7 separate regions of the Homo sapiens genome follow, and all the other regions are reported to be linked to region 5. Evidence: microRNA targets listed by miRTarBase, many of them from high-throughput screens and not tested one by one. Region 5 holds a microRNA gene; each other region holds the end of a gene's coding sequence.
Evidence for each region. Region 5 holds the annotated microRNA hsa-miR-103a-3p (AGCAGCAUUGUACAGGGCUAUGA, at 1,130-1,152, opposite strand). A microRNA usually pairs through its seed, bases 2 to 8, with sites in the 3' UTR of a target mRNA and lowers its output. Matches are read on the target gene's strand: a 7mer-m8 pairs with bases 2 to 8, a 7mer-A1 pairs with bases 2 to 7 and ends in A, and an 8mer does both.

Region 1: the mRNA of SYNRG is a reported target of hsa-miR-103a-3p. Seed matches in the 3' UTR shown: 7mer-A1 at 641-647.
Region 2: miRTarBase lists UTP25 as a target of hsa-miR-103a-3p. The part of its 3' UTR that is shown has no 7-base or 8-base seed match.
Region 3: the mRNA of N4BP1 is a reported target of hsa-miR-103a-3p. Seed matches in the 3' UTR shown: 7mer-m8 at 570-576 and 7mer-A1 at 2,508-2,514.
Region 4: the mRNA of IFT74 is a reported target of hsa-miR-103a-3p. The part of its 3' UTR that is shown has no 7-base or 8-base seed match.
Region 6: miRTarBase lists SLC9A6 as a target of hsa-miR-103a-3p. The part of its 3' UTR that is shown has no 7-base or 8-base seed match.
Region 7: the mRNA of PLEKHF2 is a reported target of hsa-miR-103a-3p. Seed matches in the 3' UTR shown: 8mer at 1,775-1,782.

Annotation. Positions count from the first base shown.
Region 1 is chr17:37,516,056-37,519,296 of GRCh38, reverse strand. SYNRG (synergin gamma) reads left to right here. Exons shown (of 22, transcript NM_007247.6): 22 at 226-3,241. The coding sequence ends at 357. Among named protein-coding and RNA genes, the nearest start is that of DUSP14, 28 kb to the right of the region's middle.
Region 2 is chr1:209,851,134-209,854,374 of GRCh38, forward strand. It overlaps UTP25 (UTP25 small subunit processome component), which reads left to right. Exons shown (of 12, transcript NM_014388.7): 12 at 71-3,241. The coding sequence ends at 314. Among named protein-coding and RNA genes, the nearest start is that of UTP25, 25 kb to the left of the region's middle.
Region 3 is chr16:48,540,045-48,543,285 of GRCh38, reverse strand. It overlaps N4BP1 (NEDD4 binding protein 1), which reads left to right. Exons shown (of 7, transcript NM_153029.4): 7 at 25-3,241. The coding sequence ends at 382. Among named protein-coding and RNA genes, the nearest start is that of N4BP1, 69 kb to the left of the region's middle. RefSeq lists enhancers at 664-1,164, 1,165-1,665.
Region 4 is chr9:27,062,411-27,065,410 of GRCh38, forward strand. IFT74 (intraflagellar transport 74) reads left to right here. Exons shown (of 20, transcript NM_025103.4): 20 at 208-3,000. The coding sequence ends at 326. Among named protein-coding and RNA genes, the nearest start is that of TEK, 45 kb to the right of the region's middle. RefSeq lists a silencer at 2,841-3,000.
Region 5 is chr5:168,559,775-168,563,015 of GRCh38, forward strand. It overlaps MIR103A1 (microRNA 103a-1), which reads right to left and starts at 1,199; the gene lies at 1,122-1,199. PANK3 (pantothenate kinase 3) reads right to left here. Exons shown (of 7, transcript NM_024594.4): 5 at 1,619-1,742. It overlaps MIR103B1 (microRNA 103b-1), which reads left to right and starts at 1,130; the gene lies at 1,130-1,191.
Region 6 is chrX:136,044,436-136,047,435 of GRCh38, forward strand. SLC9A6 (solute carrier family 9 member A6) reads left to right here. Exons shown (of 18, transcript NM_001379110.1): 18 at 17-2,834. The coding sequence ends at 289. Among named protein-coding and RNA genes, the nearest start is that of SLC9A6, 61 kb to the left of the region's middle.
Region 7 is chr8:95,154,387-95,157,627 of GRCh38, forward strand. PLEKHF2 (pleckstrin homology and FYVE domain containing 2) reads left to right here. Exons shown (of 2, transcript NM_024613.4): 2 at 1-2,299. The coding sequence ends at 408. Among named protein-coding and RNA genes, the nearest start is that of PLEKHF2, 22 kb to the left of the region's middle.

The DNA of each region.
Region 1 (3,241 bases), not on the chromosome of region 5:
CCTTTTGCTGAAACTAGGTTTAGTGGTAACAATTTTATACCTTTAATTAGCAGTAAAAAACCTTCTCTCTTGAATTCCTGTAGCTATCCGCTCAGCTTTTATGTGTGTGCCATTTTGGCCTCAGCCTCTGTGACCTGGAGAGATAGATGTACATGTTGGTTGCTGAAAAGCTCTGAGATGCAGAAAAAGCCTGACTTGCCCCACATCTCTGTTTATTTCTGGCAGGCATTCAACTCAGAAACAGACAGTTTCAAGCTGGCCTATGGAGGGCACCAGTATCACGCCAGCTGTGCCAACTTCTGGATCAACTGTGTCGAACCAAAGCCTCCTGGCCTCGTCCTGCCTGACCTGCTCTGAACAACTCCTCTGTGAAGCATTGACTTTTTTTTTTCTGTGACACCCCACGGGGTGACAGGGACCAATAAATAGAATGCGAGCACTGCACAGTTCGCTTCCCTGAATCGATATGAAGAACACCGCAAGGGACGGGGCCCCCGTCATCCCCACGGCCAGTCTGCAGGACTTCAGGTAAAATTGTCCCACCCAAACTGCACGTGGCACCAGAAGCTTGCTCACTTATCTCTACTTAAGATTTTCTGAAATACGGACCACGGCTTTCTTGATCTAAGGAAGAACTTGCTGCTGCAGTATTGAAACTGTGAAGAACTGACATTTGAAGAAAAATAGATTACCGTTGCGGGACTAGAATGGGCGACTGCTTGGAGCCAGTGCTTGTTTTTATCTAGGACACTTACTGTCCTGTGAAGTAGAATACATTTATCTGCATTTAGTTTGTTAATGTCTGAAATGAATAAAAAGAGGAAATTGCGATTAAACTGATGTTCTGCTTTTTATGGAGAAGATTCTGCCCATCTCCCCTGGACAGTAGCAGGCAGGTGAGGGCAGATTTTACCCACTTGGTTGTCACAACTGAACCAGTTCTCTACTCCTTCCCTTCACTTCTGTCCACTCTCAAGACTTTTTCCCAAAACATGCCTGGGCACTCTGCAGCCGTGAAGAATGCTCATTTTGACAGAGGCCCAAATCCTGTGTATTAGGATAATATCCTTCCCCCCGGGAGCCTTCGCTGCAAACCTGTTCTGCCGCATGCAAAGACTGTGACCATGGAGTTTTCTCAGACAAGATTTGGAAAGGCAGTGGAATGAAATCTCTTTGCAGTGGCCTCTCTCCAAATTTCCAAAGATGACTGCATAGGGACCAACACTGCCTGACTTTGCAGTATCTGTGAGAAAAACCTGAAAATTAATTCAGGGTGAAAATGTGGAGCTCTCGGCCTAGTGTAAAGTATCAAGATGTATATTTATGGGATAGATACATGACTTAGAAGAAGTAGAAGAAAATTGTCCAGAAACAGTACTGAATTTTAGATAGAAAAGGCTCATGCTTCCTGGAGTAGGGAATTGTCTTTGCCATTTAATGTGAATGCATAAAATTAGGGGAAAAACCCAAGTGGCTAAGAGCTGTGTTATTCCTGGGAAGAACTACCAATCTAGGGCACACGTCTCTCTGAATTGTTGATTATGCGCTTTATGAAGAGATTTTTCAATCTCGTGTGCTTTACTTTGTGTGGTTTAGACCCTCTGACCTAGACTTTTATTTTTAAACTGAAAAAGTTGGTCTTGTCTATATAATTGCTGCTTTTACATAATTTATTTTCCCCTCTCAGGACAAATTCTGTCTTGCTCCATCTTACAGCTTTTCCATGTTCTCCAAGAAAGGTGTGGAACATTTTCATTAAACAGCTGTTGCTGAGGCTTCTGCTTGACCTTCTGCGTGCCCGAATGCACAGAGAGGCACCGAGGAGAGAAAGGCTTTTCTCACTCGCTCCCGATGATACCGTCTCTGGCCATTCCTGACTGAGGCAGCTCACTCTGAATGGGCACCTTTGGAGCTTTTGCCCACCACAAGGCTAGTGGGGTGTTTCTAACAACACAAGTGGGACAGCTTTTGGCAGGCTTTTCCTGAGGCCTCGGCGCTTCCATCCTGGACAGCACCACTTCCACATGGAGCTGGAATGCAAGCAGGCTGCTAATTGGCCTTAAAAATTCTTTGTTTTTTTTTGAGATGGAGTTTCACTCTTGTTGCCCAGGCTTGAGTGCAATGGCACAATCTCAGCTCAGTGCAACCTCCGCCTCCCGGGTTCAAGCGATTCTCCTGCCTCAGCCTCGTGAGTAGCTGGGATTACAGGCGTGCACCACCACGCCCAGCTAATTTTGTATTTTTAGTAGAGGCAAGGTTTCTCCATGTTGGCCAGGCTTGAACTCCGGACCTCAGGCGATCCGCCCGCCTCAGCCTCCCAAAGTACCGGGATTACAGGCGTGAGCCACTGCGCCTGGCCTAAATTTCATAACAGAACCATGACAGCAGAATCTACCTTTGCAATAAGAATGTTTCCCAGGAGTTAGAGACCAGCCCTGGGCATGATGGTAAAGACCCCAGCTAATTATACAAAAAATAATTAGCCGGGTAGGTGGAGTGCATCTGTGGACATTCGTGGTCCCAGCTACTAGGTAAGCTGAGGCGGGAGATCACAAGTCCAGGAGTTTGAGGCTGCACGTGACAGCGTAGGTGATGACAGAGCGAGACACTGTCTCTTAAAAAAAAAAAAAAAAAAGTTTCCCAGTTTGAATTTGTATTGCTGAAGCATTTTTTTGAAATGCTATATAGATGCCTGTCATGTCACAGTGGCCCAGTATCAACATTTTAAAAAGCTCACTTGGTAGCTGGGCTGGTTTCTATTCCTGAGAAATTCCAGAATGCCTCAGATAAAATTCCTTAGTATAATCCCCATTTTCCTTACCAAGGATGGTAGGCTTAGTCACTCCTTGGGAGGTGCCACAGGAAAATTCAGCAGATGTCAACAGAAAAAAAGCCTTTGCTATGAAAAGTATTCACTACCTTTCATATCTCTTGAATACTTGAAATGTTTAATTAGATGCCACCAATAGGGATCCAAGGAGTGTGGGACACGGTTGCGCTGCTTTTCTTTATAAACGTTTATTAAAATGGCTCAACGCTGCATTCAGCTTCACCTCAGCTCTTCTTGTCAGCCAGGAGCCCCGTGTCCTTGGAAACTGTAGCCAAGGTTACTTATTTCCATACTGTGCATTGTGTCAGCCCGCTTCACCCCACTGCTTGAATGGCCATTAATAAGCACTTTTCTTTTTTTGGTGGGATGTTTTGCCTTTAAAATTTTTATGGCTTAGTGTGTAATTTAATT
Region 2 (3,241 bases), not on the chromosome of region 5:
CAACTCCTAGGTAGTTTTTCTAGAACTTGTTTCTCAAGTTGACATAGCTCTTTCTTTCCAATTCTGACAGGTATACAATAAAAGGCATCAGGAACCTGATTTTCTATGAACTGCCGACATATCCACACTTTTACAGTGAAATCTGTAATATGCTGAGAGCCACCAACAGAGGAGAAGAGGCCACGTGGACCTGCACTGTTCTCTACTCCAAATATGATGCCCAGAGGTTAGCTGCCGTGGTTGGTGTGGAGCGGGCGGCACAGATGCTACAGTCCAACAAGAATGTCCACCTCTTCATTACTGGAGAAAAATGAAATTTTGTTGGGCAGGAAGTGGTATTTGGCATGATACATAATGTTTGATTCTATGCCATTTGGACCCAATTCTGATTACTTACAGAAGAAGGACTGATACAAAGAAAGTGCATGAGGCAATGTCAGTATTATCTGACATCTTTCTTTTCAGGTCATGTGTCCCTGAAAAGTTAAATGTAAACCAGATTTTGGTAAATCCCATCTTTCAGAAGTGAAGAGGGGGCTAGAAGGACTCTGAGAAGTTGGTAGAAGAAAACTCCCACTTGTGAATATTTTTGTGAGACATAAATTCTTTTATTACGATTTACCTCTAATTTATTACACTTAGTAAATTCTTCCAGATTTTTCTATTTGTTTGACACTTCCTTAAAGTAAGGAATACACATTGCTTGCGAGAACTGGTTATGAGACATTGGAATACTTCTTGCTGCTACATGTCATCTTAATTTTGGATGGCATGGGTTTTGTAAAACTTATTCTGCCCCAGCCAAACTTTTTTGAAACCTTAAATAGTCTACCTTAATTCAGCCTAGAAGAGTACATTGATTTACTGATCTTTTTTCATATTCATAATACTAAATGTTTTAGTTTTGTTCAAATATATGCTTAAAATCACGTTATTTAAAAAACACATCAGCTCTGTCTCAAGAAGTAATTTTGTTGAAACTCCATGTTAAAATATCCATCTTCAACAGTAGTGTCTTCATAATAACTAGTCATTTTTTCAGTCATAAACAGATGCAAATAAAAAGGAAATTACACTTTTAAAAACATTTTTATTTTGAAACATTCTCAAACAGAAAAATTCCAAGTACAGAACCTGAACCATTTGAGAGTGAGTTGCCAACCCAGTGGGCCTATCACCTTTAAATACTTTAGTATATATTTCCTGTAAACAATTAAGGGTATTGTTTGTGATTAGGAATGCCCCACCAATAAGGATAATGTGAATATTTCAGAATCCAAAAAAATTCGAAACACGTCTGGTCCCAAGCATTTCAGATAAGAGATATTCAACTCATCCTAGTATGGACTCGTAGTTTCTTCTTTTATTCAATGGGTTACGGTTTGTTACATCATTATTTCTTTAGATGCGTAACTGGTCTCAAATATGGCCGCTGGGAGCACCTTCAGGTTAGCCCCTGTGTACTTTTGACATGTCCCCCATCTACTTGGGCACTGCTGTATTTTTTGACAATGAGACATTCCAGGTTTCTCTACTCCAGCCCTGCTTGCTTTTAGTAGGAAATTATTATAAAAGGTTAGATTGGAGTGCTTACTATTGTGGTGCCACTCATCCCAGGCTCAGTGGTCAGAACTTGGGAATTGTGTACATGTATGCACACACATATGTACACACGTTGTCTAAATTTGCTTCACATTAATATCTAAATTTACTTTCATATCCATATATTGAAAACCATGAATTCACACCAGTACCTCCAATTCTAGTCCAACAACACAGGATTGCTTCTCATTTTCTTTCCATATTGATAACTCCTTTCTCAGACAGTGGCTCCCATTATCCTCAATGTAATAACCCATGATTGGTACAGATTTTTTTTATCCTTGGGCACGCTTAAAATTACTTAGCAAAAACAAAAAGTAAAATCAGTTTTGAAGTAATATTTCTGCTAAATATTTAGACATTTTTACTTCTTTTTCTTCAGCATGGTAAGTAAAACCATTTATTCCATATTTAGATGGTTTTCTAAATTTCAGAAAATTTAGTTAGATAAAAGCCGACCGAACCCATGCTACAAAGAACTTTTTGTATCTATAGGCATGCCCTGTGGTTACTGGCGTAATTGTGCTGCTGTTTATCATAGATCCTGTATATTATGAGAATAAGAAATGAGTTTATTTACCTCATTCAGAAATGTGAGGCGAAGGGACTGTAATTACCTGGATCTTTTTTTTTTTTTTTGAGATGGAGTCTCGCTCTGTTGCCCAGGCTGGAGTACACTGGCATGATCTTGGCTTACTGCAATCTGTGCCTCCCGAGTTCAAGCGATTCTCGTGCCTCCGCCTCCCAAGTAGCTGGGACTACAGGCGCATGCCACCATGCACAGCTAATTTTTTATATTTTTAGTAGAGATGGGGTTTTGCCATGTTGGCCAGGCTGGTCTCAAACTCTTGACCTCAAGTGATCTGCCCACCTCAGCCTCCCAAAGTGCTGGGGTTACAGGCCTGAGCCGCCACGCCTGGCCAATTACCTACATCTTTTTCTACTGCCATATTCTTTTGCCTGTGAATTGTAGTTCATCTCGTGGTTTCCATTATTACTATTCACACGACTCCCAAATCTCCAGCTTCTCTGGCTCTCCACTCACATGTGAGTCTGGATTTCAAATCCATGATGTAGCCCCAGAAATAACCATTTTATTAAGCACCCCTAGTGATTTTCATGCTGGCATAGAGCCAAACCCAGCCAACTGCTTCTTGCCTGCAGAGAACACTGAGGATTTCAAGTGTGAACAAAGTAGTGTTGCTTTGTTCCTGGCTCAGCACCTGAAAAGAAGGTAAGCCTCTGCAGTTAGCCCTGGCTCCTTAGTGCATTGCAGAGTGGAGTCTCTGCAATGGTTTTATTAAAAGGATGCCTTGAAGATCTGGTCTCTCTCAACACACAATAAGCGAGAAGAGAGGCTACTGAAATACGGATGCGTGAGCTGGAATTACACACTACCTTGATGTTAACAAGGCTCATTTGCAGCAAGCAAGTGCCTATATAGGGTCTGAAATATAGACAAAGGATGGTCCCAATCCTGGAAACAGTGGAATTAAAAGGTATGGAAAGGAACTTACCCAGAAAGTAACACTTTTAAATGTTTTTTCTTTTCCCATAGTTAAAACAACCAGCTTAGCACTTTTCTTTTTGAGAGAGAAAAAGCTTTGAATCGTGGATGCTTCTCACAGCTGGCTGCACC
Region 3 (3,241 bases), not on the chromosome of region 5:
ACCAGGACTCACTTCCATTCACAGAGATATGCAGCCCCTACTCAGTGCCCTGCCAAATGTGGGCATGTTTGACCCCAGCTTCAGAGTCCCTGGCACCCAGGCAGCCAGCACCAGCCACCAGCCTCCGACCCGGATTCAGGGAGCCCCTTCAAGCCACTGGCTCCCTCAGCAGCCCCACTTCCCACTGCTGCCAGCCCTCCCCAGTCTCCAGCAGAACCTGCCCATGCCAGCTCAGAGATCTTCTGCAGAAACCAACGAGCTGAGGGAAGCCCTTCTGAAGATCTTCCCTGACTCAGAGCAAAGACTGAAAATAGACCAGATCTTGGTGGCCCACCCATACATGAAAGATCTAAATGCGCTTTCTGCCATGGTGTTGGATTGAAGATTGTGCTGAGCGCTGAGCTTGCGCTCAGGGCTGGCTGATCAAACTCAAGCTCACACCTGTACCTGATGGGAATGAACATAATGTGAAGAAACTTATTTCCCAGTGTAAACGCAGTTGTACAGAAAAAAAATGTTTTGGGTATAAATCTGGGTTTTCAAAACCAGCTTTTTTCTATATATAAATTATGCTGCTATTACAGATTTAACATTTTCTGTTAAAGGAAAGTCTACATTTTCTGCCTGTTCAGAACTGTTTAATAGCAGTTACTCTTGAGTGTATTTACCTTTTTATGTTTTTTAAACTATTTTCCTTAAAGCCGAAAATATTGACAAATGGATATGGTTAGCCTTTATAAATAAATAAAAAAAAAAGTGTTGCTTTCTTAAGGAAAGCAAGACGTCTTAAAGTATATTTTCTTGAGATGAGTATGTCCCATCACTACCATGAAGTGTGCTCACCCTTCCAGCCTCCTCTGCCCTCACCCCCGGAGTTAAAGTGGGTAAGAGTTGGTTTGTTCTGCAGTCTTTGGTTGGAGTGTTGTGAAAGTGGACCCGCGGTGCCACTAGATGGCACTTGGTGCCTAGCCATGGTGAATGACCAGGGCGAAGTTAGTCTCACAGAATACCAGGGCTAGAAGACATCGTGGAGCCCATGGAGTCCCACCCTCCTTCCCCCTTCCACCCTGCGCAAAAGGGGACGGCCCAGTGTGCACGCCGTCCGGCCATGCCCACAGCCACAGCCACAGCTGAGGAGTGGCCGGGCAGGCAGCAGGCTCCCCAGCCAGGGCTTGACACGCCCACAGTCAGGGGCCTCCACATGCCTGGCCTGGCTCTGGAAGTCACGTCTTAGCTTCTGAACACCGTAGCGGGTTATGAGGAAGTTTAATGAAGAGCCCGGTCACTGTGGCCATCTTGTGTCCCCAACTGCAGGAGACGCCCTGATGTGGAGTTTGTACAGCTTTGCCAAAAAATGGTTTTCTATTCTCAAAAGTGACCCAAGCCAATAAATAGCATTAGTAGCTTCTGTGGGGGGATCCCAGAGCCCCTGTATTTATTTTCCCTGTGTTTGTCTCTAGTGTCCTCCTAAACAGCCTTTCCTGTGAGTCTTTCTCAGAATTGATATCTTAATATTGTCTGTTCTAGGTGTTGCCCAAATTCAGTGTCAGTGAAGTTCTTTTCCTGGGCAATCTTAACATCTTTACTCTTATTGTCTGGACCTTCAAAGGGCTTTGTATTTTACACCTGCGCCCCCAGGCTGCTCACAGTCGGCTTGCTGCCTGTCCTGCCTGTCCGGATCTTGTCTCCTAGTCCTGAGGAGCGGAGGCTGAGAACTCAGTGCTGGTTTGTAAATGGTGAGGGGACTTGGGGGCATCCCAGAGTGCTCCCTCCAGGCCTGCTTCTTGGTTTTGTTTGATCACTGCGTTCTTCAAGGGATGAATCCAGAGCCCTCCATGAGGCCAAGCTTGTCCTTCAATCATGTTTCCTCTCAGATGCGTCCGTGATGCCTCCTAATGTGGAACTGGTTGTCCATTGTTTGGGCCTATGGCCAAGTCACCCAGCTGTGGAAGCAGAGGTAGAAGACGAGGCCAGCCAGGAGGGCGACTTCAGTCACAGCTCCCATGCCTCAGCTTTGTACCTGTTTTCAAAAGCACAACTGAGGTGTGCGGGCTGGAGCTGTCTTGCAGTGATTCTGGCCTTCTGGCTCATGGTTCAGTCCAGCAGCCTGGCTGACCCACTATTTCTCCTCTGCTTCAGAGGAAACCCAGGAAATGCCCTTACTGCCAGGCTGAGTCTCCACCCATGCTGGTTGGTGCTGGCTAGGCTGAGGGGGCCACCACTTTTCCTGGCTAGAAGCTACTTGACCTTTGATGTTTGAGTTCTGTAAGTCTTCGTGTTCTGACTTACTGCTTCAGAGGGATTGGCCTGTCCCCTTTCCCTTTCTCGGCTATGGGAAGGAAGGATTGCTCATTGGTTGCCTTCATCAGTTACAGCATGAGACGGAATTCATCATTCCTTCCGAAACCCCTGATATTTAATATTTAATATTTAAAAACCCAAATTATCAAACCATTAAGAACTCATTACTGGTTCTCAGCCTCCTCCAGTACTAGCCTCAGTGTGGCTGCTGCATAAGTATCTGTAGCCTGTCTACCTCCTGCAGTGGGGCCGCTCGCCTCTTCCCTGTCTACTGCTCAGGCTCTCCCACTTCGTGGCATCCATGTAAAGTAGGTGGCAGGGCAGAGATGTCACTCTCATTCAACAGGGAGGATGTCTGTTGCTCAGAGAGGTTGTCCTGAGGGGCTGGGTGATTCCTGGGCCTACATTCTTCCCGAGGCTCCAGGCCGCTGTCTCTGGAAGTAAAAGAGCCTTGTCTGACCTTAATGCAAGCAGTCTGTTTGAACCCCTGTAGGCTGCATTCAGGAGACAGAAGGTGTCTGGGCCATCCTGGGCGGCCGGTCAGCGTTGCTAGGCAGGCTCGGCTGTCTGGCCGGGACTTGGGCCTGGGTGGCTTTTGAGACCAGTGAAGAAGGGAGAGCCGGCCTCATGCCGATGCGGCTTGTGGCACGGCTGGGATGTGAGGGAGGACTCAGATCTACACACAGAAACCCCTCTTCTCCCCGCCCTCCCCCAGCTCCTACCTGCCTCCCACGCCTCAGGTGTGGCTGCCTGTGGGACCATCCCCCAACCCCTTTCCTCGCACCTCCTTGTCCTCACCCAGTTCCTGCAGTGTCTCTGACCCACGCCTCCCGCCTCCTGGCCGACTTGCCCAGGAGGTGTCTCTGGCTCACCTCCGTCTGTTCATCACCTTCCTCCCCAGTGTTTCCACTTATCTTGGATGTTTTAGATTGAAACAGCC
Region 4 (3,000 bases), not on the chromosome of region 5:
TATATGAATTTTTTGCGGTAAGTTTAGCTTGGCATTTTAGGTTTTAATTGATGCTTAATCTGTTAAAATGATGTACTGTATTTTAAAGTATTCTAATTGTGCTTTTTTGTACCATCTTCAGTATGAAAAATGTCAGTATTTAGTTCCTTTCTCAGGCACAATTAGATTTTTATTGACATTGTTTTCCCCCTTAACTCATGTAATTAGTCATAGCAACCAAGAGTCAAGAGAGTGATTACCAGCCAATTAAGAAAAATGTGACCAAGCAGATTGCAGAGTACAATAAAACCATCGTGGATGCTTTACATAGCACCAGCGGAAACTGAGTTTAAGTCCACTGAAAGTCTCTAAGGAAGTATCCTCTTGCTGCTAAACTTGGTACAAGTTGACTACCAAAAAAAAAAAAAGCTTACTTTTGGAGTTTACCTAAAATTTCTGAATGTTATAATTTTTGTGGCCTCTTTTAAGAATGATATTTTAAAATAGTAAATAGTTCAATAAATGGTTTGCATATTAAAAAGTACCATCTTCTTTTCTTTTTATGCTACTTGTATTTGAACCAAGAGATAAAGAAACTAAAAGTGACCGTTGAAATTTATTTAGCTGGTATAATCCATCTATGGCAACAAATGAGATAAGCTTTTCTTGTATCAACTCTAGGACGGATGCATGGAGTATGATTCTGATTTAGCACTTAGATCAACCTTGTCAATTTTTACTTCTAGAAAAAATTAGTAAGATTAGAAGGGAGATTTTTAGCTTTGAATGTTACTTCTCAAATAGGTTATATTTGATGTGTATTAGACCATATAATGTCACAGGTAAATATATAACATATATTCTTTATATAGCAGTTATACCTAAAGATTTGGAATTAGAAACTTTTAATCTTTGCAATTCTTAAAATATTTTTTCACATATATATACCTGGAAGAACATTAGGTAAAAGACTACATTTATAGTGGGCTGTTTTGGACTATGGCTACTGCTGTTCATTGCCACCCTGCAGTATGCATTTACTCTCTTGTACTATTAGGAGAACTTAAGTAGATTAATTTATAAACATTAGCCAGAATATTTGGGGAAAAAAGCTAGAAGAGGTAGGATTGGGAGAGAGGCATAGAGTCTGGAAGACATTATATTAACTGTAGATGTATCTTCTCTTATCGTGCAGGAATGAGTCACCTTGGCCAGCATAAAATATTACTTAAAACTATCCTGTTTTTGCTCTGATATCATGTTCACTAAGTAACTCTACTTTTCAGTATTTCTGAAACAACACATTGATTTCTTAAACCAAAATAGCTTTATTGAGATATTATTTACATACTTTAAAATTTACTCATATATGTTGATTTTTAAAAATAAATATTTATAATGGTAAATTATTCAAATTCAGTCTATATACATTTAAATAAAGGAGTGAGCATTGTTGAGTTTGCTGAACTCTGGATTACTAATATGGCTGAAGATCCTGGACATTCATTAAGGTAGCATTCATAAAATGTGTTCCATAAATCCTGAGCATCTTGAGTTATTAATAGTGTTATGCCTCCAAAGGATTCATGGTCAAAGAAGTTTGGGAAACGTTGTCTGAAACAAAGGTGAATTATTTTATTTTTTCTTGACTGCTCATAACCCTTAATATGCTAATGTATAATAAGCTCAAGAAGAATATATACTGTAAAGCATTTCCCAGAGATAGTTGTCCACAAAACCCTAACTTTCACAGAGCCTAGGTCACATGAGATGTGTCATTCCAAGAAATAGACTTTGTACACCAAATAGACTTCATACACTAAAATAATTTCATCTACTCAAGTCCTCTGGGTGGCTCTATGGCCTTTTTCAGATGACTCCTGAGTATGTCTCTTTTTAGCCACCCTCAGCTGTTTTATGCTGTGATTGTATGGGGTTTTCTATTGGAAATTGGTAGCAGAAAGTGCTTATAAAATTTCACAAGGGAAAAAAACTCTTTTAGCAGTTAAAGAGAATGAAATCTGAAATTCAGTAGATAAAACAGGTAATAGATTTTGATGACAGTTTGCAGCCCTTCGTTCATTCATAAAGTATTACTGTAATTTGGTGATTAGGAGCCTTTATGGATATACCCGACTGCTGAAAAACATTCATCTTTTATACAGTAACAAACAGAGGTATGATTGAGCATAGAGTTTAGGCAAGAGAACTGACTACTATGGTCTCTTAATCACATTGATTCTATTTCGTGGATACTTCCAAGGAGGAAGGGAATCTGGAAAACATGTTTGTGGATAGGTAATCTTTGTTTTCCTCATTTGAAAGCAAATTTAAATGCCTTTACTTTTTCCTTAGGTTTTTTTTTATGATTTCTACTTAAGTGTTCTTGACATTTTACTGCACCCTTTTAAATAACCAACTTAGTAATTTTTACTATTAGTAATAAGGGTTTTTTTCTGAGTGGTGGGATTATGGGTGATTGTAATCTTCCTTGGGCTTTTTGGTATTTTCAAAATTGTCTGTGATGTACATTTAATACTTAGAAATGCAATAAAATTCAAATAAAGTACTATATGCAGTTACTACTTTAACTGACAGAAAGGATGTAGTAAAAACTCTTAAGTCCTTGACTCTAGAACTGAACCAATCTTTACGCAGAAAGAAAGTAGGAGGAAGATTGGCCTGTCCATTAAATATATGTGTTTGCATTATAACAATGGGAAATTTGGCAGGAAAAAAATTTCTTGACAAAAAGCAAGGCTTTCAATTTCCATCCTAATTTATTCATATGTAATATTGGTGGGGGGCAAATAATTGAGCAGGATTTCTTTAAATTAAAACATGTTTTATCTGAGGGAAATTCTCACTAATGTCTCTCTTCCTTCCTCTGAGAGCCTTTCCACAAATCCAACAAGAATATTCTCTTTACTGGGATAGAACTGGAGGCTAATAGCTGCATGAACTGGCTCTTCCTGAGTCAGTCACATTACTCAGGGGGTTCCATTCATGCTAAAATAACAC
Region 5 (3,241 bases):
AATGCATGTTGAACAATGACATGCAACTGTGGATTCTACAGAATTGGAGAGTAATACTGACTGGGGTACTGGCATGTGCATTCCCCTAGGATTCTAGCATTCTTTCTCCGTCCCCTGCCTGATTCATCAAATCATTCTCTCTCTGCAAAGATTCCACACTAATTTGGTTTCTTAGATTATCTCTATGATTAGGAAATCTTACAAAGGGGAACTGGTGTTTGAATCACCAGAAAACTTATTTCGACTCTCACACTATACTGACTTTTGAGTAGAAATCTTTGTACATAAGTTGGGATACTGTAAACCATGGCCTAAATTATTGTTAACTCAATTGGTCAGTGGAAATTTAGACATAAAGGGCTAAGAATAAAGGTCTCAAATTGTTGTCAGCTCCCAACATGGTCTACTAGTAACTCCATCAACCAACTAACACTTAAGTTTCTAAGTTATTAAAAAACTGATGAGACCAAGTTCTGGATTTAAATACAGAATAATTCAGAGGATTTGCATATTTGTTCTCTCTGCTGGAAGCTTTCTCCCCAAAATGTCTACATGCACAGTTTCCCCCTCACCTCCTTCAAACCTCTGCCTAAGAATCACATTTTCAATAAAGCTTTCCTTTAACCACTCAATTACTTAGCAATTTGTCCTCTACCACTCTCTGCCCTATTCCCAATCCTCTTTATCCTGTTTGATGGTCTCTTTTTAAAAAAATAGCACTTATCACCTAATACACACTACACAATTTACTTAATATGTCACTAGAATGAATGCAAGCTCCACAAAGCCAGATCTTTGTTTTCTTCATTAATATGTTCCAAATACCCAGAACGATGTCTGGCATCTGGTAATCAGTAAATATTTACTCAATGAATAAATGAATGAATGAACAAATGAAGGGTTCCTTCGAAAAGCGTACTTCCCAATCCATTTAAAGTATTTGATATTTATAAAAATTAAACGGGCAAATATATCTATTATTATATAAGGAAGCTAGAATTAAATATATATATTCTCTTCCAAACAAAGAATCCCAACTATATGGTCAATCTAACAGTATATCCTTTTCACACTTTTCTTGTAACAATAAACACCACTCAAATATCATGAAGAACAGGTCTCAATGCCTTCATAGCCCTGTACAATGCTGCTTGATCCATATGCAACAAGGCAGCACTGTAAAGAAGCCGAGGGCAGTAAGAAAACTTCCAAGAATTTCACTAATCAAATGCAACATTAAGCACTGGTGGTATAGTGGTGAGCATAGCTGCCTTCCAAATGCAAAATTAAGACTAAAAAAAATGCTTTCACAAAGTATCTCAAAATGTCTTATGCTTAGAACTTTCTTTTACATCCTCAAGGGATTTAGGTTGTGTTTTTCTGAAAAAAAATTCTGAATAAATTTCTCCTATTTCAATTTGAATTATCTGCTACTTTCTTTAAAAGTAATATAGCAACTGGATACGTAACATATATACCTAATGAGTCTTGGCATTTAATGGGTTACATCTCAATCCCAGAGGCCTCCTTAGGGAAAGTGAAGAAGCCCTGCTAGGTGTATATAGGACTCCAATTCACATTTTTGATAATTCAAGTTTTGTGTTTTTTGTTTTTTTACCTCATTAACAGCACACATTCGTGCCACAGAACCAATGTTATTGGTGATAGTAACTAAAGTAGCTCTTGCCAGATCTTCTTTACTAACAGATTCTCGCTTCTCCTTATAAATCATATTCCCAAAACTGCAGAAAAATGAAAAATAAAGTCAAATCTGCTGATAAAAAGCAACATTTTACGTATTAACAGATATATCTACAACCTGGATATTTTTATAAAATTAGGACCAAAAAGTAGAAACACATAGGGATAAGATCAAAACAAACTAACAAAAAAAATCTATGCAAGAGTAAAGTAATACCTTTCAAAGAATTAAGGTTAAAATGACATCTCAAAAAAAGCATAGTTAGTTATTATAAGAAAGCAAAGATTACCAAAATATCTTCACTTAAACCTGATTCAAAACAAATTAGCCAAAATTACAAAATGTTTCCAAAAGTATCTCAGCTTTAACTTCAAATTCTTTTTCATTCAGTCACAAGAAACATTTATGACATACCAAGCTTTGTGCTGGAGACAGATAGTCCCTCAAACAGTGAATTAGTCTAGTGCAGCACTGTCCAATAGAAATAAAATACGAGTAATATATAATTTCATATATGTTCTATTAGCCACATTAAAAAGGTAAAAATAAACAAGTGAAATTAATTTTAATTGTACATTTCATTTAAGCCAATATATCCAAATATCATCAATTCAACATGTGGCACTCATAAGCCAAGTGCCTTACGTGGCTAGAGGCTACTGTAATGGACAATGCAGGCCTACATACAAAAGACAGCAAGAGAAGCGCTAACAGTAACAGGGAAAAAATCCAAACAAAGGCTAACCCCAAACAAAGGCTAACCTTGGAAATACAAACAAAAAAATATCTTTTATTACAGTGGTAAGAGAAAAAAGTTAAGAAGGTATGAGGCAGGGCTTTCAGAGCAAAAGGACCAGAAAAAGCCAGAAAAAATGAGAAGAAAAATCTTAGGCAGAGGCAACTAAAGGTTAAAGGCACACAGAAATGAGAAATGAAAACATCTATGAAATCACAAGATGTTTGGTCGGAGTGAAGCGTCTATGCAAGGGAGAGGCAGGAGATATTACTGAAGAGTGAGACAAAGTCCACTATCAAAGGGCACTGGATTCCCTGACAAAGAACTTGGGGTGCACAAGCAACAATGGTTAGGAAGCATAATGGGAGACAAGACTGATAAACAACAGAACAGTAAATTTAAAATATTTAGGAATCAATTTAAAAAGCCATGTATGGACATATTTGGAGAGGCCTTTTTAAATGTGTGAAAGGCACAAAAGTAGCCTTAAACAAACAGACAAGCTAAGTTCTTCAACAGCAAGACTTACTATAAAGATATCATTTGTCCCTAAGTTAATATGTAAACTTACTGAGATTCCAAAAACATTTTTGTAATAGAGAAAATGTTTGCCAAGTTCATACAGAAAATCAAGCAAAGGAGTGAAACTAGCCCTTCTAGAGATTAAAACATACTTTTTATGCCTCTATAAAGCTGAAAGTATAATGCTGGTACATCAACAGAATGAAAAGCCAGCATATGTAAAAAAGCCATCTCAAATCAGTGAAATAAAGATGGATTATTAGACATTAGGGCCTTCTGGA
Region 6 (3,000 bases), not on the chromosome of region 5:
CTTTATTTGCATTTAGAACCAGGAACAGTTGAAAGATGATGATTCTGATCTTATTCTCAATGATGGTGACATCAGTTTGACATATGGAGATTCTACTGTGAACACTGAACCGGCCACATCCAGCGCCCCAAGGAGATTTATGGGAAACAGTTCTGAAGATGCCTTGGATCGGGAGCTTGCATTTGGGGACCATGAACTGGTCATTCGAGGAACACGCCTGGTTCTTCCAATGGATGATTCTGAACCCCCGCTAAATTTGTTAGATAATACGAGACATGGTCCAGCCTAAGCTTACTAATACTCACTTAGTGATTTGTAAAATTTGCACATGTGATTGTGAAGAAATTTGTACTACCTAAAAGTCCCAGTGCATGTCTCTGAATGTGTAAGCTATATAAATGCTATTTATATGGCATAGAAAGAATATAAATATCCTGTACACGGCAGATTGTGAACAAACTATATTCCTTTAAGTTTTCCTGGTTGCACTCTGTAGACTGGATCTGTTTTAGGAAGTTACTTTCACAGTGATGTTGTGTGTTCTGTTAGTTTTATGTCTCAGTTAAAGTGTAAAAAGTGACGGATTTTCTCTTTCTTAAACTTACCTGACACTTAACCAGAGTACCAGTTCTCGTGATGTGAATTAATTTTTTTGTGTGCTAGGGGAGGGAGAGTGAGGAGGGAGTGTTATTTCCTTGGGAACCTAGGGAGGAGAGGTTCCTTTGTTGGGAAACTTTTGTTGATAGCTGCTGCCTTTGTCCTGATCGTTTTCTTTCCCTTTTCTCTGGTGGCCTGTTGTGGTGCAACGAGCTGATGGCATTTGATCTTGCCCCATTCAGGTTGGGGAGTGAAGTGTGAGGACCCTTTTCCCCCGCTTGCTGTGAAAGCACAGATTCATTGACTACAGTACACTGTTGTTCAGAAAAGAAGGCTGCAAATGACTTCTGAGACTTTATGTCTTTTCTTCCAGACCAAGACCGTAGAAGGAGTCACATCTAGCCGGCTTAGCCAAAGTACAGGTGTATATAGTTCAGGGCACTTGATTTAGATTTGGAGGGGCTGGGGTGGGCAGAGAGCAAGAGGCGAGTAAAGAGAATGGTGGTTTCAGAGATCTCTCTTCCCAAATGTGTAAATATTCTATACCAGATAAGTTTAAATAAGAAATTTAATTGCTGCTTAATTTTTGATTATGTACTTTATCTGTATAGCAGGCTTTGTCGTCAGAAGTTTTTATATCGATTTAAATTGCTGCTCTTTAGCAGCCAAACAGGAGCAAAATGTAAAATTTTTGAACTTACTGTGTCTAATCATCATTTGTTAGTCTGTAGTTAATGTCAACAGTTAATTTATGAACCCACGATCGTTCCACACTGCACCAAAGTCAGTCATAAGAGAAATCGAATATTCTGGAGCACTGATTGCAGCAGGGTGGCTCCTTTGTGTGCAGCAGGTGTAGTAGTCTTCATTTTCATGGTACGTTTTAATATTAATTACCTAAGCTGCCATGCATTTTTTTTTTTACAGTTCTCAAGGAAGAGCACAGAACAATTTCTCATTTCATATTTGGAGTATGAAAGTAGATTCTATTTTGTAATGCTGATAATACCTAAAGATGCATTGAATGCTTGGAAGAATGCTTTTTGATGTTGATTTTGACCTGTTCATGATTCAGAAGAAAAACAAACTTTTTTGGATTTTTTTTCCCTCAGGTCTGAGTAGCATTGCCTTAAATCTTATCCAGTTAGAACATTGATTTATTTACATGATGTTCAGATTTTCCAGTGAAAAATACCCTTCTGAACAAAACATGTACTTACTCTCCGAAAGGCATCTATCTGTGCTATTGCAAACACTCCTTGAGATTTTAGGGGAATTCTAATGTTGTACCCTTTCGTGGCAGCTTTGACTGTTGGCATAGCCATTTGTTATGTAGTGGTAGCGACTTTCCTGCTATGCAGGAATCCCTCCCATGACGTGTATGTTTTACATGATGTGTGCCTCTTCACGCAGTAAATAGTTTCTTGTTAATGTATGTTTGAGGAGTTTGAACGTCAGTGTCACTTACCCACAAAGTTATTCAAGTTGTAAAAGGTTATACAATAATTTAACAACTACCTTTTTTATTCTGTCGGGTTACTGACCTCACTTTATGTAAATACTTCGCATGACAAATTCAGTAACTCGTCTATTTCAGCATGCATAAGACTTTTCACTAGGGAAACTGATAAAGCTTGAGTCAACTAAATCTGCCTTCATACTTTATCAAGGGGAACCAAGCCTGCTGTGCTTACATCAGCATCTGGAAGACTTTCCTCTCCTCTAATCTGTGTACACATCTCCAAGCAAGGAAGAAAAAACAAACTCTGCTCAGACGCCTATGAAACACCTGAATGAACTTTGATGAAGTACAGTCTGAGTTACCATCATGCACAAGTAGAACTGCTCTTGGACTTGTTTTCCTGTTGTTTGTGGAACCTACGCGTTTGAATGGCTTGAACGTTGCATCTTTTAAAGTTATTTTTTAAGGTTTCTTGGCATTTATCCTAGTTGTCCGTGTTTGGCAATGTGCTGTTAAAGTAATAGACTTTTAATCTTTATGTATTTTTTGTTTTCTCTGGAGTACTTGGACAGATGTTATAGTGGTTTCTTTTAGGAAAATCTGTCATTAAAAAAGTTATAGCCTTGCAAATAACCACTCACAGTATTTGAGTCACAGTTTATTTTAGTGAGACGTAAAGAGTGCTGACTTCATTTATTTTTCTACCTATATACCTAGTGGAAAAGGGGAAGACTAATGTTTTCAAATAAACAAACAGAAACCTAACAGAACTTAACTTATGGGTTGGCAAATTTTTGGTGCTTATGTGTAAGGGTGGATGTATTTGCTTATGGTCACAATTGGACTCTTTAGGAAATATGACTCAAAGCTGTCAAATTCTATTACATTGATTTGTAGCCTGTTAGCTTAGTAATGGATAATGTTATAAAAATGCTGGTATG
Region 7 (3,241 bases), not on the chromosome of region 5:
ACTGCTACGGAGAAATCAGAATGGATGAATCATATAAATAAATGTGTTACTGATTTACTCTCCAAAAGTGGGAAGACACCCAGTAATGAACATGCTGCTGTCTGGGTTCCTGACTCTGAGGCAACTGTATGTATGCGTTGTCAGAAAGCAAAATTCACACCTGTTAATCGTCGCCACCATTGCCGCAAATGTGGTTTTGTTGTCTGTGGGCCCTGCTCTGAAAAGAGATTTCTTCTTCCCAGCCAGTCCTCTAAGCCTGTGCGGATTTGTGACTTCTGCTATGACCTGCTTTCTGCTGGGGACATGGCCACATGCCAGCCTGCTAGATCAGACTCTTACAGCCAGTCATTGAAGTCTCCTTTAAATGATATGTCTGATGATGATGACGATGATGATAGCAGTGACTAAGGACACATTTGGGAGTATTTAATCAGGTGTGGCTATCTGAGAAATCAACTTTGGGGGAAATGTAAGATTCTGAGCTCTCTCTCTGTTTTGTTCTAGCCATGAATTTGCCTGAGAAACTTGTAACCTATGTGCCTCAATATATTCCATAGAAAGTAGGTCCCCCTGCCTTCTCCCACTCCTCACACTCTTCTACAGGGATAGGCTTTTGCAAATATATCAGATAAATTTTTTGTTTCTTGTTTATTTTTAGGTTATTTTCTTGGAAGGTTGGGAAAAGATGTTTGTTTTAACAGGTCATGTACTACGTTGTTGTTTTCATTTCTGTTATAAGTAAAACTAAAAGCACAGAATGGTGGGAAAGGGGCTATAATGTGGTTCATTAATAATGTTAGCAGCTTTTTTCTAACCATCCTGTCTAATGGTTAAGACACCAGTAACAAAAACACATGATTTGGAAATACTTTGGCTTTTTCATATACCTAGTGGTGCCTTATCATAATAGCACTGTTACATGAAATAAGCCCCTACCTTCTTACTTTCTGGTTTGTTGAAAAAATACACTGGTGCTCTTTGAAGTGATAAAATGAGTGTTTATGAATGGGTGTAATTAGGAAATACTTCTCATCTGACAGCTACAAATAACTAAGTTTGGAGGTATTTTCACTCTATATGAATAAATATTTTTCCATAAAATAGTTGTGATTATATTTTTGTTTTATATAGGTCCCAAATTATAATTGTCAAATATATATTTTAAATTAATAAAAGTTGTCATTCTTAGGAATTTGGTTTGAAATTTATCAGTTATACAGAATTGTCATACTGCATTAGCTTCTACCTTTAGTAAGACATATTTTTTAGGTATAAATTCTTATGCTTTAACATTATTTCTGGATTGAAAATCTTATAAAACCCTTGAAAATAAACAGTCTCTTTTTTACAAAGCCTGTGTTAGAGCACAGATTTACCTAGGCTTGAAGATTTGGAAGAAATAATATGTAAGAATGGCCTCAAGGCAGACCACTTTAAGTTTGGCTAGACTTCATATCGTGGAAGTATTGTCTATTTCAGTGTGAAACTATCTTGAATTTGCAAATATAGTGTTATATTTTATAAAGTTTTGTAAAATCCCAAACAATATTTCTATTTTTGTAAAACAATTGTATGTATAATCTGTATTTGAAATCATTTTGCAATCTATGGAAATAGAGTAGCAATTGCTATTTCTAAATTGTGAACTTTAAGTCAATCTAGATTTATTTTGAGAAGTAATTGTTCACTCTTTACTTTTGAGGCAGCCATTAGGTTGAAAGTATATATTTATCATATAAAACTTGATGCGTTTTGCACTACTCTTTCCATTTATATGCTGCAAACAACTACAGTCTTTGAAATATGGAAAATCAGCAGTCTAAAGTTTGTTTTAAATTCTAAATTTAAAAAATCTTCAAATCTGAATATACCGCAAATGTCATGAGAAGTTTGATTCAGTAACTTGTGATGGAGGATTCTTTGGTATCTTACTGTTTGGTTAAGGCACTAATTTTACTTACCTATTAGATTTTGAAAGTATCTGAGATATACAAATCTCCCTGTAGGAAATGTGAAAGAAAAGCACAACAAAACTAGGGTTTTTTGTTCATTTGCTTGCTTTTATGATTTTTTTTGGTTTGTTTTAATATCAGGTGGATTTTTGTTTCTAAGCAATATATACATAAAATCAACCAACATATCTGAAAAGGATCATGAAACCTGAGAAATGCTAATGGAGATTTGCTGGTACATAGGAATCTAGCAAATTCAGGAACCAAGGGGAAATGTTGTGAGATAACATTTACATTGTCAACCTTTATTGACTTTGTTTTTACAATAAAAAATATTTTACAACTTACTTTCTGTTCTCTGTATATTGTGACTTGAGGATTTACCCCCTCTGCTAAGATAATAAAGATATTATGCATATTTTGCCTAATAATTCAACAACTGTGAGTGCCTGCTATGTGCCAGGCATTGTTCTAGGCAGTAGGTTAGAGCAGTGAACAAAACTCCCTTTTGGATTTACCGCACGAAGGCTCAGAAAACATTCTTCCAAGTGTTGAAGATATGGCTTAATGTTACTGGGAAGTGCCTTAATATAATTTGGCTTTGCTGTCCAATTACTGTTAGAAGGAATGACTTGACCTGAATTGACATGTCTCAGAAGGAAACATACACATGGCTGACAGGTATATGAAGAAATGTCCAAGATCACTAATCATCAGGGAAATGCAAATTAAAACCACAATGAGATAATGGTAATACCTGATACCTGTTGAATGACTTATCAAAAAGATGAAAGAAGTGTTGGCAAGGATATGCAGAAAAGGAGACCCTTGCACACTGTTGGGAATGTAAAGTAGCACAGCCATTATGGAAAACAGTAGAGGTTCCTCAAAAAGTGAAAATAGAACTACCTATAGCATCTAGCAATCCCACTACTAAGTATATATTAATATCTGAAGAAAATGAGTATGTTGAAGAGATAATCTGTACTCCCATGTTCATTGCAGCAGCATTCACAGTAGCCAAGATATGGAATCAACCTAAGTGTCTATCAACAAATGAATGGATAAAGAAAAGGTGGTCTGTATACACAGTGGAATATTAGCCATAAAAAATTAAATCCTGTTACTTGTGACAACATGGATGGAACTGATGGACATTAAGTGAAATATGCCAGGCACAGAAAGACAAATACTTCATGATCTTGCTTATATGGTGTGGAATCTAAAAAAGTTGAGCTTATAGAACCAGGAGTAGAATGATGATTACCAGGGGCTGGTTGAGGGGTTGG